2 separate regions of the Homo sapiens genome follow, and region 2 is linked to region 1. Evidence: fine-mapped expression QTL. A gene starts in region 1. The other region holds a variant in brackets. All regions are shown on one strand. Distances are between the middles of the regions.

Evidence for each region. PIP is the estimated chance that this variant, and not a neighbour inherited with it, causes the effect. A credible set is the group of variants that fine-mapping cannot tell apart.
Region 2: its variant is the best candidate, but not a certain one, in a credible set for the expression of VPS33B in whole blood (TOPMed, PIP 0.60).

What each region holds. Positions count from the first base shown.
Region 1 is chr15:91,021,005-91,023,916 of GRCh38, reverse strand. It overlaps VPS33B (VPS33B late endosome and lysosome associated), which reads left to right and starts at 1,323. Exons shown (of 23, transcript NM_018668.5): 1 at 1,323-1,763. The coding sequence starts at 1,668. It overlaps VPS33B-DT (VPS33B divergent transcript), which reads right to left and starts at 1,295. Exons shown (of 4, transcript NR_110104.1): 1 at 1,177-1,295; 2 at 1-604. RefSeq lists enhancers at 1,359-1,768, 1,623-2,239.
Region 2 is chr15:90,984,919-90,987,830 of GRCh38, reverse strand. All of the region lies in intron 1 of PRC1 (protein regulator of cytokinesis 1), which reads left to right. PRC1-AS1 (PRC1 antisense RNA 1) reads right to left here. Exons shown (of 4, transcript NR_051984.1): 4 at 1-201. Among named protein-coding and RNA genes, the nearest start is that of PRC1, 8.2 kb to the left of the region's middle. The variant A/G (reference allele first, on the strand shown) is at 1,609.

The DNA of each region.
Region 1 (2,912 bases):
CTCCTGGGCTCAAGTGATCCTCCTGCCTCAGCCTCCCAAGTATCGAGATTAAAGGTGCCCACCACCATGCCTGGCTATTTTTTATGTGTTGTAGTTGACCAATCTTATCTCAAACTCCTGGCCTCAAGCAACCCCCCGACCCCGACCTGGACCTCCCAAAGTGGTGGGAATTAGAGACATGAACCATTACTCCTGGCCAAATTATTTCACCTGTAAAAACTTCAGTATGTATCTCAAAGAGATAAGGACTTGTTTTTAACAGAAATACAAGCCTGTATGACATAGAAATACAAAAAATAATAATAACATAGAAATACAATACCTGGCCCAACGTTGTGGCTCACGCCTGTAATCCCAGCACTTTGGGAGGCCAAGGCAGGCGGATCACTTGAGGTCAGGAGTTCGAGATCAGCCTGGCCAACATAATGAAACCCCGTCTCTACCAAAAATACAAAAATTAGCCGGGCATGGTGGCACTCGCCTGTAATCCCAGTCTACTCGGGAGACTGAGGCAGGAGAATCTCTTGAACCTGGGGCGGCAGGGGGGTTGTGGCGCGGAGCTTGCAGTGAGCCGAGCTCCTCCACTAGGCAAAAGGGCGAGACTCTGTCAGGAAAAAAAAGAGAAGAAAAGAAATACAATACCCGAAAAGTTTTAGTAATTCCTTAAATCAGTTATCTTTGAATTATTATCCAAAAAAGATCCACACATTGAAACATTTTGTTGATACATCTCTTAAATCTCTTTTATTCTGAAGTGTTTTCCCCTCCCACATTTCCCACTTTGCCATTTTTTTGAAGACGACAGATCATTTGTCCCATATAATTTCCTACATTTTGGATATGGTTGATTTCATACCTTTGGTGTCTTAACATATTCCTGCTAATCTCTATATAGCCTATAAACTGGTAGTTAGATCTTGAGGCTTGATTAGGTTCAATTTTTGGCAATAGGTGATGCTCTGTATTTCCTATGCATCTCACCAGGAAATGATATGATGGTATGATTGATCAGAGTTGAGGTATTGTTAGCTAGCCTGATGCATTCATTATGTCTTTTTTTTTTTTTTTTTTTTTTTTTTTGAGGCAAGGTCTAGCTTTGTTGCCCAGGCTGGGGTGCAGTAGCGCGATCGCAGTTCACTGCAACCTCCGCCTCCCTGACTCGAGCGATTCTCCCACCTCAGCCTCTGGAGTGCTGCGACCCCAGGCGCCGCCACCTAATTAATAGACGCGTTGCCTCCGTTTTTCAAATGTCCCTTTCAGGACGCCGTCCCCTTCCTGGTACGCGAAGCGCTGGGAGCGAAAGGGACTTCCGGGAGATCTAGGAAGTCGCTTCTTTTTCTGGTAGAAGGCGGGGTTCTCCTCGTACGCTGCGGAGTCTCTGCGGGGTGTAGACCGGAATCCTGCTGACGGGCAGAGTGGATCAGGGAGGGAGGGTCGAGACACGGTGGCTGCAGGTCTGAGACAAGGCTGCTCCGAGGTAGTAGCTCTCTTGCCTGGAGGTGGCCATTCATTCCTGGAGTGCTGCTGAGGAGCGAGGGCCCATCTGGGGTCTCTGGAAGTCGGTGCCCAGGCCTGAAGGATAGCCCCCCTTGCGCTTCCCTGGGCTGCGGCCGGCCTTCTCAGAACGAAGGGCGTCCTTCCACCCCGCGGCGCAGGTGACCGCTGCCATGGCTTTTCCCCATCGGCCGGACGCCCCTGAGCTGCCTGACTTCTCCATGCTGAAGAGGCTGGCTCGAGACCAGCTCATCTATCTGCTGGAGCAGGTCAGTGCTTGCCTGACGCCTTTATCGCATCTACAGTTTAGCACTCATTGGATGCACATTTCTTCCTTGCCGTGCCCCTTTGATCTTGTTCTTGGCCCCTGGTATTGTCCTTGGCGCTTCCCCAGCAGGTCCAGAATGAATCCAGGGAGTAGTAAGAGCTGTTTGGAACCTGGCCAGAGAGTTAATGGAAATCACCCCCCAACCCCGCATACAGGCAAGGGAGACACCATTAGTGCCAGGCATCCCTAGGGACGGAAAGATGGTTAAGACATCTTTGCCATTAGGGATCTTACCACTCCAGTAGGAGCTGTATGAAGCACAAATTATCACACACAGGTGGTAAATGAGTGATAGAGCTAGTGTACCCGAAGAGTTCACAGTAAGTGATCATTTCTAGTTGGGGTGATGATCTAGGAGCTTCAAGGAAGTGAGTGTGAGTAATAAGCATATTTTCTTTGGAGACTAAGCATGCTCCAGGCAGATAGATTGGTAGGAGCAAAGTTGGCAAACCAGGGAAAGACAAGGCATGTAAGGGAAGACACCCATCAGCAGTTACACAGTAGCCACTGAAAAAAATTTTTTTTCCATTTGTGGCATGAGACAATACTTGATGATTCTAATAGTGATGTGTGTGGTGGCGTAAATGGGCAACAAGAAGGCCAGTTAGGAGACCGTAGATCAGACAAGAAATAAAGGCCCACACAAAATTGGTAGCAGTGGGAATGAAGGAAAGTGATGGATTTTTAAGTTATGGTGAAAGAAAACTCAAAGACTTACTGATTGGTTATAAATGTTGAAGGAGAAGCAAAAATGAGTGAGATTTTTAACCTGGGTTATTAGGAAAATAATACTGCCACTGTGATTTTAATGGATTACTTGTGTAATCATTTAGTTATTCATTTTATGTCTGTATTCCTCATTAGACTGGAAGGTGGGCAGGGATCATGTTTGTTTTGTTCAACACTACCTAGTGAGTACCTAGCTTAGAGTCAAGCACACACCATGTGCTTAATAAATATTTGTTGTATTAACATTGAATAGAAATGAGAAAAATAATTAGAAAAAGGAACAGGTTTGATGGGGGAAGTTGATTTGTTTGGGTTTGGATGGGGGAAGTTAAGATGCCCGTAAGAAATATAGCTTGTAACA
Region 2 (2,912 bases), 36 kb after region 1:
GCTGGTGACTTGTAGAACCACCGAAAGCTCTGAGACAGAAAGGGGCTAATGAAAGTCTCTAGTTGCAGTTGGGTGTGGATGGCACACAAAGACCTTAAGTGTTTAGGTGATTTGCTGCAGGCTTCTCGGCCGACTGGAAGCAGAGCACATCTAGATTGTAGTTTCTCTGGTGCCAGGGCAGTCTTAGTTGTCCTGTTATACCTAAGAAAAGGGAGAAAAATTTCTATTCTTTAAATGTTCTGTAAAGCAGACTAATTGTGATAATTTTTAAAGTAAGCTGTTCTTAAAAGATAAGATACAGAAGCCAGTTAAATTTGTATTTTAGATAAATAATTTTTTGTTAAAATAAGCTTTTGGTAATTGAAGAATAACATACATTCAGAAACGTACAGAAATCAAGTGTAAACTCAGTGAATTGTTCACAGTTGATGCACCTGTGTAAGCAGCAACCCAGAAGCCCTCTACCAGTCACTGCCTCCCCTGAGCCAAAAGAACTACTATCCTGACTTCTGAAAGCATTGATTAGTTTGGCCTGGTTTTGTTTTTGCTTTTTTTGTTTTCGTTTTTGAGATAGGGTGTTGCTTTGGAGTGCAGTGATCATAGCTCACTGCAGCCTCATCCTCTCAGGCTCAAGCAATCCTCCCACCTCAGCCTCCTGAGTAGCTGGGACTATAGGCATACGTCACCGTGCCCGGCTAATTTTTTTTTTTTTTTTTTTTTTAAGACGCAGAGTCTCACTATGTTGCCCAGAATGATCTGAAACTCCTGGGCTCAAACAGTTTTCCTGCCTCGGCCTTGCAAGGTGCTAGGAATACAGGCGTGAACTACCGTGCCTGGCCAGTTTTGCCTGTTTTTGAACTCTCTGTCAACGGAATCACATAGTGATACACATTTGCATATCTAGTGGCATTTGCTCAGCCTAAAGTGTTTTTTTTTTCCTTCCTCTTCCCCTTACAACTATTTTTTAGTTGTTTATTTTACTTCATTAAAAAAATGAAAAGATTTGAGGTATAATTCATACACAGTAAAACAGACTCGCTTTACAGGTAGTTTCAATTGTATACTGTTGTATAATCGCCATCAAGATCTAGAACTATTTCATCACCCCAAAAAAGTAAAATAAATAAATAAATAAAATAGAAATATAATAATTTGAGCTTTATCCATATCATGTGTAGTGTGTTCATTTTCTTTTTTGACAGTTTCGCTCTGTCGCCCAAGCTGGAGTACAGTGGTACAATCTTGGCTCACTGCAACCTTGGCTCACTGCAAACCCTGCCTCCCGGGTTCAAGCGATTCTCCTGCCTCAGCCGCCCCAGTAGCTGGGATTACAGGCGCACCACCACACCCAGCTAATTTTTTGTGTTTTTAGTAGAGACAGGGTTTCCCCATGTTGGCCAGGCTGGTCTCCTGACCTCAAGTGATCTGCTCCCCTCGGCCTCCCAGAGTCCTGGAATTACAGGTGTGAGCCACTGCACCCAGCCAGTTTGTTCATTTTCATTGCTGCATTAGTGCATTGTAGGAATGTACTATTCATTCTGTTGATAGACATCTAGGCTGTTTCTGTTTCCCTGCTATTATGAGTAGTGCTTCTCTAACCATTCTCAT[A/G]TATGTCTTTGGTGAACGTATGTGTTCATTTCTGCTAGGTATGTATGTAGAGGTAGAACTGCTGGGTTCAGCTTTAGTAGATAGACTGCCAACAGTTTTTAAAATAGTTGTACCAATTTACACCATGCCAGCAGCATATGAAAGTTCTCACTTTTCTATATACTCACCAACACTTAATGCTGTCTTTTTAACTTTAGCCATTCTTTGAGCTGCTAGTTGTAATTTAAGAAGAATAGGCCAGGCATGGTAGCTCACGCCTGTAATCCCAGCAATTTGGGAGGCCGAGGCAGGTGGATCACTTGAGGTCAGGAGTTCGAGACCAGCGTGGCCAACGTAGTGAAACCCCATCTCAATGGCTTTTTAACTTTAGCCATTCTTTGAGCTGCCGGTTGCAATTTAAGAATACTAGGCCCGGGCGCAGTGGCTCATGCCTGTAATCCCAGCACTTTGGGAGGCCGAGGTGGGTGGATTTTTGTGTTTTTGTAAAAATACAAAAATTAGCTGGGTGTGGTGGCACACACCTGTAATCTGAGCTACTTGGGAGGCTGAAGCAGGAGAATCACTTGAACCTGGGAGGCGGAGGTTGCAGTGAGCTGAGATCTCACCACTGCACTCCAGCCAGGGCAACGGAGCGAGACTCTGTCTCAAAAAAAAAAAAGAAAATAAAAATAAATAAATTAATTAAATAAAATGGCAAGGCACAGTGGCTCACATATGTAATCCTAGCACTTTGGGAGGCCGAGGAGGGCGGATCACTTGAGGCCGGGAATTCAAGACCCACCTGGCTAACATGGCGAAACCCCAACTCTACTAAAAATACAAAAATTAGCTGGGTGTGGTAGCACCTGCCTATAGTCCCACCTACTCGGGAGGCTGAGTCAGGAGAATCATTTGAACGCAAAAGGTAGAGGTTGCAGTGAGCCAAAATTGCACCACTGCACTCCAGCCTGGGCGACAGAGCAAGATGCTGTCTCAAAAAAAAAGAAAAAACAAAAAAAAAACACCAAAAAAATAGTAATAAATTGCCAAACATTTTGCAGGAGTTTCTCACCAGCAAGTTCTTGTGTTAGTTTATTTTACCAACATCTTTTGTCCGGTTTTTCTTTAGTAAAAGTATTTATAATTCTGTATTATACTTCCATAGGTAGATCATTGTTGAAAGTCCAGAAGGTTGAGCTTCCATGATGTAATATGATATGAAATCTTGTATTGCTAGTGGCATTTGGTAGGAAAAGGGATGGGGAGTGGTTAAAGGTGAATTAAGCTGAATGCTTGTTTTCAATTTGTTTTTTTCTCGAGGCCAC